2 separate regions of the Homo sapiens genome follow, and region 2 is linked to region 1. The links come from fine-mapping of genetic effects on gene expression. A gene starts in region 1. The other region holds a variant in brackets. All regions are shown on one strand. Distances are between the middles of the regions.

Region 1 (5,216 bases):
CACACACACACATACACTCCTGGTGCTGAGATAATTTCCAAGAAATTACCAGTTCCTGGTTATTCTCCTTCCTCCTGGCTCCCTTCCTAACTCCCCCTCCATCACCAGATTACACAATTCCTTGAGCCTATGGTATTTTCCCCTGGAGCTTGTGTTCATTTCCTAACTCAATTAATTCCAGATTCCCTCTCTCACCTTCTATTTTCCCTCGTTTTCACTAGAAAACACTATTTGAGTGACTTTCCTGGTTAGTTGAATTCTTCTCAGCTCCTAAACTTTCTTTTCTGTGTCTGCAAAAGCTTGATGGAGATAACACAACTAGAGAATTCTCCCCACACACTCCAGCACGGATGAACTCGTATTTTTACACCCTCCTTAGTATCTGCAGCCAAAGCAAAGGGAAAACCACTCAGGCATTGTGGGGGAGGTACTCTGAGTGTCTGGAAGATGCCAGGCTGAGAACAGCAGTCATAAATGATATACCCACAAAGGAAAAGTCTCTGGTCTCCCTGGGTGAGATGGCCTTTCTCTGGAAAGGAGGCCACCTATAACCACTTCCTTTGCCCTTTGCTGTGACCTTGCTGTCCCCGGGCGCTGTCAGGGATTGTCTGGGAGGAGGTCGGGGGGGGTAGGTCAGTCACAGGTGGGGACACATTTGAACAGACCTAGACAGGGGAGCCTTATACAGAGGTTCTCTGCTTCCTTCCCACCTCCTTAGGGTATGAAGCTAGATTCCCTGATCTGAATGGATTCCATGGAGACAGTCACCTAGACAGACACCTGGTTTCAGGTGATCCCTTTCTGGACAAGGTCTTTTGTTTTCAGCGCCCCCCCACCCTCCGCCCCAACAATGGCATCTCCTCCTCAGCCCAGCCAGCAGCCCCAGGCTAGCATCTGGGAAGAGTCCAGGGAAGCCCAATGAGGGAGAGTGGGCTGTGTCTGGGATGGCCAGGGATCCCCTCCAAATGGGCACCTGCGGCAGGTCGTGAGTCCAGCCATCTCTAGGGCAGCCCACACCTTCAGCAAGGAGGGGCAGGAGACCTAGAATGGGGGAAATGGGAGGACTAAGATTCTAACGTTGGAGGTAGGGCAGGCTGGTGTTACCTGCACAAGGCCAGAAGCCTCTTCAGGCCGCCTCTCCAGGGACCGTGCCAGCTGTCCCCACTTCGATCAGCCACAGTATTGGACTTGGTCCAGCACGAACAGAAAGCGAAGTGTGAGCCCAAGACAGAGGGGGGAGCCGGACACCCTTATGGAACTAACAGCCTCTGGGGAGGCCTGTTCCAGATCCCGAGTCGGGCGCACAGGGGGATCCCCGCAAGGGGGCAGAGGGAAACCCGGGAGGCCCGCGAGAAGAGGCGAGGCCAGAGGCTGGGCGCGGGCAGCCAAGCGCACTCGCGGCGCCCCGACTCCAGGTAGCACGTAGAGAGGAGGCTGAAGAGCCCCTCGGTTTTCCGAAAGTTTCCAGCGAATCCTTCTTGGTGAAGATCGGCCTCTGGGAGGCAGCGTGTGTGCTTCCCGAGAGGGGGCCCCCTGCGCCGTCCCTCTTCCCCTGGCACAGAAGGGTTGAAGGACTGCACACAGGGATCCCTCCCCAGCCCAGTCTCCTCCCAGCGCGCCCCCTCCCCGCCATGCCGGCCAGCGCCGGGCTGTGTCCCAGGCACTGCCCCCCGCCAACCCTGGCCCGACCAGCCTCGCCGCTGCAGGCTGCCGGGAGCTGCGCTAGCTCATGCTCCCAGCTCGCTCGGTGCTCCCTGTTCGCTCCGGCCCGGCCCCGGCCCCCATCGCGCCGACCATGGAATAGGCGGGCGGCCCCGCGAGGCGCTCCTGCAGCCGGCGAGGCCAGAGCCAGTCCGGGGTGGCTTTGCCAACCGGCGGAGTTGGCCAGCGGCGGGCCCTCCTACCGTCGGTCCTTCCCCGCTCCTCCTCCTCTGCCCCCTCCGCCCCCGCCTCCCGGCCGCCCCCGCCGCCCCCGCCGCGCCGCCGCCCCAGGCCGAGCGCGGGCGCGGAGCGTGGGAGCCATGGCGCGCGAGGAGGAGCGGGACCCCGAGCGCCGGGAGGCGGCGGCGCGGGCGAGCGGCGAGGAGGAGGAGGAGGGAGGGGAGGAGGGACTGGGCGATAGCGACGAGGAGGGCGACGACGAGGAGACGGGCAGCGGCGAGGAGGAGGAAGAGGAGGCGGAGGCGGCGGCCGGGTGGGAGCGCAGCGAGGACGCGCGGCTGCTGCGCGCAGGGCTGCCTCCTGCCGCTGTCCCCGCCGCGGCCGCCCGCGACAGGAGCGGCCGCCGCCCGCCGAGGCCGCCGCCCGGCCGCCCGAGGATGCGGCCGTCCGGCGACGAGGACCGCGCGCGTCGCCGCCGCCGCCGCCGCCGCCGGAGGGACCTTCTGCTGAGCCAGCTCTGCTTCCTGGCCTCGGTGGCGCTGCTGCTCTGGTCGCTGTCGAGCCTGCGAGAGCAGAAGGGTGAGTGCACGCTGCCTGCCCCGAGTGGGCGCTGCGGCTCCGGCGGCTCGGGGCTCCCGGGGCTGGGCGCGGGGCTCCTTCGGGCGGCCCGGCCGGAGCCCCAGGATAAGCGGGCTGGGTTGGCGGGGGGAGTGGGATGCCAGGCACGAGGACTCCCCCTGCCCCACGCAGAGGCATGGAGGTGGGGACCCTGAGCGCCAGCAGCCAGCAGGCTTAGGCGTCTGGCCGCCCTGGGAACATTTACCTGTGCCCGCCTGTGCGCTGCTTACTCGCGAGCTGGAGGTACTGCTGGTGGCGGTGGTGGGGAGTCTTACTCTCCATCAGCCCCCAAGGCCAGGGATAAAGTTGTGGTGGTAGACCCGGCACCTGTGCAGGTGACCACCTGTATACTCCTTGGCTTGCTGAAGGATTCAAGGGGACTGCTTAACACACAGTTGTCCGTATGTTCTCCATCCAGAGAGCAGGCGGGATGGCCCGAGTAGAGAGCTCTTCAACCCCCTTTCAGAACAGGTGCCGGGAACTTCAGGGAGAGAAAAAGTGTTGGCCCTCCAGCTATGGGCTAGTAGGGGACTTGTTCTCCTAAAATGACCACTCACTGGGAAGACAGGGAATTCTTCCTCAGAGGTCCCTTTTGCAGAGCTGCTGCTGTGGAAGAAATGGTTTGCAGTGGACCACGCATCACACTGTCCGCTCCTCTACCGGTGCTCTGCGCAAAGTCTGCCCTTTAACCCACAACTTTTGTCTTGTCTTTGTCCTTGGCCTTTCTTGAGCTGAAATAGATCTTGTGTGCTCCCAACAGTTGTCTGCTGAAACAGCTTCGATCCTGGGATTCAGCTGTCTATAAAATGAAGGAAAAACATGGGAGAATAACTGTTGTAAAATGGTTTTATATCCCGGCCGTGGAAGTGGCACGATTAGTGGGAAAACAGCCATGTAAAGGGTTGTGAGAAAGAAACAAAACAAAACAAAACAAACAAACAAAAAAACAGTTACAAGTATGTGCTGTGGTGTTGAGGTCGACGTAGCTCTAATGCAAGATGTCATGAGGTGCAGAATAAAGACATTTTGATAGTCACCGTAAAATATTTTCAAAGGTGCCATGAATTTAAAAAGGGATCTCCCCCAGCTTGGCTGGTCTCCTGCTTGGTGGGGAAGTGAAACAGGCGTCAGTCTTCATTCAGTCTTAGCAGACCGCTTGACAGACTTCATCATTTATGGTAATAGCAGAGAGTCCGTCTTGGTCTTCAGTGAAGCTGTTCAAGACTCCACGGCTCTCTCCATTGCTCTCCTGGATCTCAGATCCCGTAGCCTTGGGTTCTGACATCAGGAAGGGGGCCGTGCCGGTGTGAGGGAAGCAGAATCTCTCCCAGGGCAGATTCACATCTGCCAGACTTCTGTCTACTGACAGTCTCACTAAGGGGGTTTTCCCGAATCCCATTTTTATTTTCCTTTTTTATTTTTCTCCAGTGAAAAACCAGTTTATAGTTCATGCCACCTTTGGAAAGGGCTATTCCTAGTGGATTACACGCTGGCCATTTTTTTCTGGTATGTTGGGGCTCTATGAGACATAGAGTTCCCACCACTTTCAAGAATATAAAAGACATTTTTTTCTGGGTGAAGGATGTGACTCATATAGTTAAGTCAATCAGTGACAGGGGGCTGCCTGGGCCCTGAAAAGCTGGGATTTGGGAGGAGAGGAGGCCAGACACTCTGCAAACTTGAAACCTGGGGACTGGAATGTCATTTTGGAATGGTTTCCCTGGTAGTGACATTTCTATTCAGGTGCCACTGACTCAGATTTAGTTCCATAGCACGGCCTTTTCCGCATCCCTCCCTCTGTCCTACCTTTCTCCTTCCTACCTTTCATATTCTTTTTTCCTCTCACTTCCTCTTCCTCCCTTCTCATCTCTGTTGGTCTTAGGACCCCTCCACACCCCAGTAACTGAAGATCTAACAGGCAAAAGCCAAATGTTAAGGAGGATGCCAGCCAGCCTCCCTGTGTTGCCCCCGAATGACATATGAGTTGAAATGGTCTCCAATCACTTTTTTTTCCGTTAGGTATTGATGATTTTGGTATGTGATGCACAGTAGTATTTTGCAGCAAGACACAGGTTTTTCTAGATAATTTTTAACATATTAATTAATGTGTGTGAATCTGCAAATGATAATTTTGCAAGGGGAATTGTCGTTTGGCACACGTAAGCATTTGAATGGTGACTTTTACCCTGGAAACTTGGAGCACACACTACCTAGTGGTCCTTTGGTACAGATACTGAAGTTTGGAATGGAGCATTGTTTCGAAGACCTTGTGGTGTAGAGAGGCTGAGTGATTAGCTTAAAGTCACACAGCATTCGAAGAGTAGAGGAAAAAACCAACCTGAGGTAACCTGGTTTTTTGTTCCCTACTCTGTCCTCATATTCAAACCACCATTTGGGTGTAGCTTTGTAATATTTATATAATCTCATAGGGGGTACCTTCATAATGATCAAAGGTAATATTTTCATTTAGTCACCTTGAAAGCCATGCAGTGATTGTTAAATGTAACTTCTCAGAAGCTCGTTTTCTAACACATATTGACCTTTCCCTCCCTCCTTCCTTCTGTTGGCCCTTCCTCCCTCTCTCCTTCCTTCATTCTTTCTTCCTTCCTGCTCCCTTCCTTTCTCTCTTCTTTCCTCTTAAAATGACAGTTCTTTTACCAAAGCAAAATAGAGATGTGTGATAATTATATTATATGATGTTTCATAACATTTCTAAT
Region 2 (5,216 bases), 260 kb before region 1:
GCTTTTTCTGCATCTATTGAGATAATCATGTGGTTTTTGTCTTTGGCTCTGTTTATATGCTGGATTACATTTATTGATTTGCATATATTGAACCAGCCTTGCATCCCAGGGATGAAGCCCACTTGATCATGGTGGATAAGCTTTTTGATGTGCTGCTGGATTCGGTTTGCCAGTATTTTATTGAGGATTTTTGCATCAATGTTCATCAAGGATATTGGTCTAAAATTCTCTTTTTTGGTTGTGTCTCTGCCCGGCTTTGGTATCAGAATGATGCTGGCCTCATAAAATGAGTTAGGGAGGATTCCCTCTTTTTCTATTGATTGGAATAGTTTCAGAAGGAATGGTACCAGTTCCTCCTTGTACCTCTGGTAGATTTCGGCTGTGAATCCATCTGGTCCTGGACTCTTTTTGGTTGGTAAACTATTGATTATTGCCACAATTTCAGAGCCTGTTATTGGTCTATTCAGAGATTCAACTTCTTCCTGGTTTAGTCTTGGGAGAGTGTATGTGTCGAGGAATGTATCCATTTCTTCTAGATTTTCTAGTTTATTTGCGTAGAGGTGTTTGTAGTATTCTCTGATGGTAGTTTGTATTTCTGTGGGATCGGTGGTGATATCCCCTTTATCATTTTTTATTGTGTCTATTTGATTCTTCTCTCTTTTTTTCTTTATTAGTCTTGCTAGCGGTCTATCAATTTTGTTGATCCTTTCAAAAAACCAGCTCCTGGATTCATTGATTTTTTGAAGGGTTTTTTGTGTCTCTATTTCCTTCAGTTCTGCTCTGATTTTAGTTATTTCTTGCCTTCTGCTAGCTTTTGAATGTGTTTGCTCTTGCTTTTCTAGTTCTTTTAATTGTGATGTTAGGGTGTCAATTTTGGATCTTTCCTGCTTTCTCTTGTAGGCATTTAGTGCTATAAATTTCCCTCTACACACTGCTTTGAATGCGTCCCAGAGATTCTGGTATGTGGTGTCTTTGTTCTCGTTGGTTTCAAAGAACATCTTTATTTCTGCCTTCATTTCATTATGTACCCAGTAGTCATTCAGGAGCAGGTTGTTCAGTTTCCATGTAGTTGAGCAGCTCTGAGTGAGATTCTTAATCCTGAGTTCTAGTTTGATTGCACTGTGGTCTGAGAGATAGTTTGTTATAATTTCTGTTCTTTTACATTTGCTGAGGAGAGCTTTACTTCCAACTATGTGGTCAATTTTGGAATAGGTGTGGTGTGGTGCTGAAAAAAAATGTATATTCTGTTGATTTGGGGTGGAGAGTTCTGTAGATGTCTATTAGGTCTGCTTGGTGCAGAGCTGAGTTCAATTCCTGGGTATCCTTGTTGACTTTCTGTCTCGTTGATCTGTCTAATGTTGACAGTGGGGTGTTAAAGTCTCCCATTATTAATGTGTGGGAGTCTAAGTCTCTTTGTAGGTCACTCAGGACTTGCTTTATGAATCTGGGTGCTCCTGTATTGGGTGCATAAATATTTAGTATAGTTAGCTCCTCTTGTTGAATTGATCCCTTTACCATTATGTAATGGCCTTCTTTGTCTCTTTTGATCTTTGTTGGTTTAAAGTCTGTTTTATCAGAGACTAGGATTGCAACCCCTGCCTTTTTTTGTTTTCCATTTGCTTGGTAGATCTTCCTCCATCCTTTTATTTTGAGCCTATGTGTGTCTCTGCACGTGAGATGGGTTTCCTGAATACAGCACACTGATGGGTCTTGACTCTTTATCCAACTTGCCAGTCTGTGTCTTTTAATTGCAGAATTTAGTCCATTTATATTTAAAGTTAATATTGTTATGTGTGAATTTGATCCTGTCATTATGATGTTAGCTGGTGATTTTGCTCATTAGTTGATGCAGTTTCTTCCTAGTCTCGATGGTCTTTACATTTTGGCATGATTTTGCAGTGGCTGGTACCGGTTGTTCCTTTCCATGTTTAGCGCTTCCTTCAGGAGCTCTTTTAGGGCAGGCCTGGTGGTGACAAAATCTCTCAGCATTTGCTTGTCTATAAAGTATTTTATTTCTCCTTCACTTATGAAGCTTAGTTTGGCTGGATATGAAATTCTGGGTTGAAAATTCTTTTCTTTAAGAATGTTGAATATTGGCCCCCACTCTCTTCTGGCTTGTAGGGTTTATGCCGAGAGATCCGCTGTTAGTCTGATGGGCTTTCCTTTCAGGGTAACCCGACCTTTCTCTCTGAATATGTGACACATGATTTAAAATAATATATGATATATAATACAGTATATATTATGTATATTTAGTAATATTCATTATTATATATAAAATACTATGTGATTGCATGTACTGCTAGTGTAGATTCTGTATATATGATTACTGTAAAAGCAATTATTATCATTGTCTTTGTTATTAGAATCCATTTGATGCCACTGTTACTGAGGTCAATAGAGAGATAGTGAGAATAACATAGAAATTGTGAATCCTGTTGATACTAGGATTAGAAATAGATCTGATTGCATGTGTGTTTGTGTGTCTATGTGCTCACGCACATGTGCACGTCGGTAGGTAATGAATCTGGCTTTGAGCACAAAATCACAGAAAGAACTGATAGGAATACTGCAGACGATGTGGTCCCATTGCTCATTTTGTTGATGAGGAAAGTGATGTCAGTGCTTCATCAAGCAACCTAAGGTCCCACTATTGCTGGCAGGTCTCTTGTCTCCTCCCTTCTTGAATTTGGGTGGAATCCAGTGAAGATGGTTAGCAAAGAGATGAGGGAGTGGTCCTGGGAGGAGGCTCCTCTACTGGAAGATTCGGCTATTCTTCCTTAACTTGAGCCTAGTGCCACGCTTCTCTCCTGCCCTTCCCTGCTTCTCTATACTTTCACTTCCCACCTTGACATTTAAAACCTCTGTTTTCTGAGTAACACTGATGCTAATGTTTGTCTTTTTGGGGCCTCCTTCTGATGCTAGGCTCAGAGGA[C/T]ATTCAAAATAATAACAGATCAGTGCTTCCGAAACCCAATTTAATACAAGAAGGGGTGGGTGCCTGTTTTGTCTTGAAGTCCAGAGCCAGGTGAGTCACTGTGCTCCCCATGGTCAATTTCCTGAGAGATTATCATCTTGAGGAGGACATATCAAGTACCTTCCAAGGAGGCATCCAAGATTCAGGGCTGTTTTTCCAGCCCATGGAGTCCCAGGAATTGTTTCTTCTCTATTGATTGATTCTTCTCTATTGAAGACCCTTATTGAGGACGAAAATTTTTTCTCTGTGGATTTTCCACGTAATCTTGGCTTGAGAGAAAATATAGTAATTTTAGGCAGTTTGTGATTCTAGAGGTGTTAAGAAAGACATTTCCAAATACATTTAGGGATGTTGCTGGATAAATCTAACCCCTGCCTTCCCCCCTGACTCCACCGCAGGATCACGGGGAGGCAAGGCTGTGATTGCAGCTGGGTGTCTTTGCAGCATCTCAGCCTCGTCTCCCACACCCAGTTCTTCTCCAGCATCCGGGGCTTCCATGCTGTCGACTGGTGTGACCTGAGGACCAGTGTGACCACTCCCCCTCTCCTCCCTGAGCAAGCCCCTGCCATGCTCTGTCCATCCTCTGCCCCTGACTGGCATCGACCCCTGGTACCTCAGCCTCAGTGCCAGGACTTTGAGCCAGGAGCAGCAAATTGGGGAGCCAATGTGAGGATGGGGAGAATGAGGCCTGCCATGGTCTGGGTCTAGGCTGCTTTTGTCCAGCGACTCCCCAGGGTGACCACCCCTGAAGTGGACATCATTTCTGATCTAAGTGGAAGAGTAAGACATAAAGGACAACTGAAGTGAGGGTGCAGGAGGCTGCCCCACTCAGACCGTGGTGTTTGTATCAGAAGCTCTTCTCTGTAAGGGGAAGGTGGGAGCACCAGGATCTTGACTGTATTTTCCAGCTGAGTCTTCCTGATTTGGACACGTTTTAAAACTTTCGAATTTTTAGAGTATTGGTTTAGAGTGATGGAGCCAACTTCATGGGGTCAAACATATGTAATTTACATAAAAGTACTAAACAGTTCATTTAAATTACAGTTACACACAACTCGATGGAACACTGAGTTTTAAAAAGTCCTAGAAAATGATATACCCTATGAAACACTTTTAATACAATTAAAAGCAACTAAAATGAAACAACATATTTTTAGAAAAACATGTGTTAAGACTATATGCAAAATAAAAAAGAAAATGTTAACCCAGGTGTGGTGGTATGGCCTATAGTCCCAGCTACTTGGGAGGCTGAGACAGGAGAATTACTGGAGCCCGGGAGTTTGAGGCTAGCCTGGGCAACACAGCAAGGGCCTGCCTTAAAAGAAAAAAAGAAGGAGAAAGAAAAGAGAGGAAAAAAAGAAAATGTTAAACCTTTGGTTAAGTTAATTTTGGAGAGGTGGGGGACAGTGTGGAAGAGAAGTGTATGTGTAGGTATAAATTATTCCTAGTATTTTGGGTTTTGTGTTCATAATATATTCATTGATGTTTATTACATTAGATTATTAAAATAATATAAATTAGACTAATATAAATTAAATTGTTCAGGCCAATTACAAAAGTGAATTAGTGATCTAGTTAGCATTTATTCATATGCCAGGTAGTGTTCTAAGCACTTTACATATACCATCGACTCACTGAATCCTCAAAACAGTCCTATAAGGTGGGATTATTATTATTTCTATTTCCATGGGGAAACGGAGGCACAGAGAGATCAAGCAACTAGCCCAATACCACACAGCTGAGCGGGAATTCTAACCCAGGCTGTGTGTCTCCAGAGTTCTGCTCTCTTAACCACAAATGTTGTGAATGATGTATTTTGTGAACCCAGGGTTCCTAAAAAAAGAGGAACAAGTTACCTGAAGGAACTGGTTTCTATAGAAAGCAGGTAGAGTGTGCAGGAAAGGAGGATGTGTGGCCTTAGTCTGGGAGGAAAGTTGGTGGTTTTGTTTAGACTAATGTGTCGGTTGGTTACCATCTCTACCCTCCCAGGCAAAATACTTGCACTTTAGCAATGCCTTACTGGGTTAATTCTAATAGTGGGGATTTTGGGTGACATGGCAGACTGTTGGGAGACCATCCATTGACTGCGTGAGTCTTTGAGCTCTTTTCGTATCATACTGGTGATCTGGCTGCTGGCTAGATGGAGTTAGTGCCCCTTTTTGTTTTGCCTCAAGATTTATCACCTATTAAGCAAATATTGACTTCTTAAATTAAATTGTAATGCCTCTTGCAACAGAAGTCA

Which allele goes with the higher level. Alleles are on the strand shown, and positions count from the first base shown. SD is a standard deviation of normalised expression in the study named.
For the expression in subcutaneous fat of the gene that starts at base 2,118 in region 1, C is the low allele of the variant in region 2 and T is the other (small effect, 0.16 SD a copy in GTEx).

Evidence for each region. PIP is the estimated chance that this variant, and not a neighbour inherited with it, causes the effect.
Region 2: its variant is the best candidate, but not a certain one, in a credible set for the expression of SLC24A3 in subcutaneous fat (GTEx, PIP 0.83).

Annotation. Positions count from the first base shown.
Region 1 is chr20:19,210,525-19,215,740 of GRCh38, forward strand. It overlaps SLC24A3 (solute carrier family 24 member 3), which reads left to right and starts at 2,118. Exons shown (of 17, transcript NM_020689.4): 1 at 2,118-2,460. The coding sequence starts at 2,319. It overlaps LOC101929547 (a long non-coding RNA gene), which reads right to left and starts at 1,944. Exons shown (of 3, transcript XR_007067549.1): 1 at 1,105-1,944. RefSeq lists a silencer at 2,469-2,518.
Region 2 is chr20:18,952,201-18,957,416 of GRCh38, forward strand. No RefSeq gene overlaps it. Among named protein-coding and RNA genes, the nearest start is that of SCP2D1-AS1, 120 kb to the left of the region's middle. The variant C/T (reference allele first, on the strand shown) is at 2,936.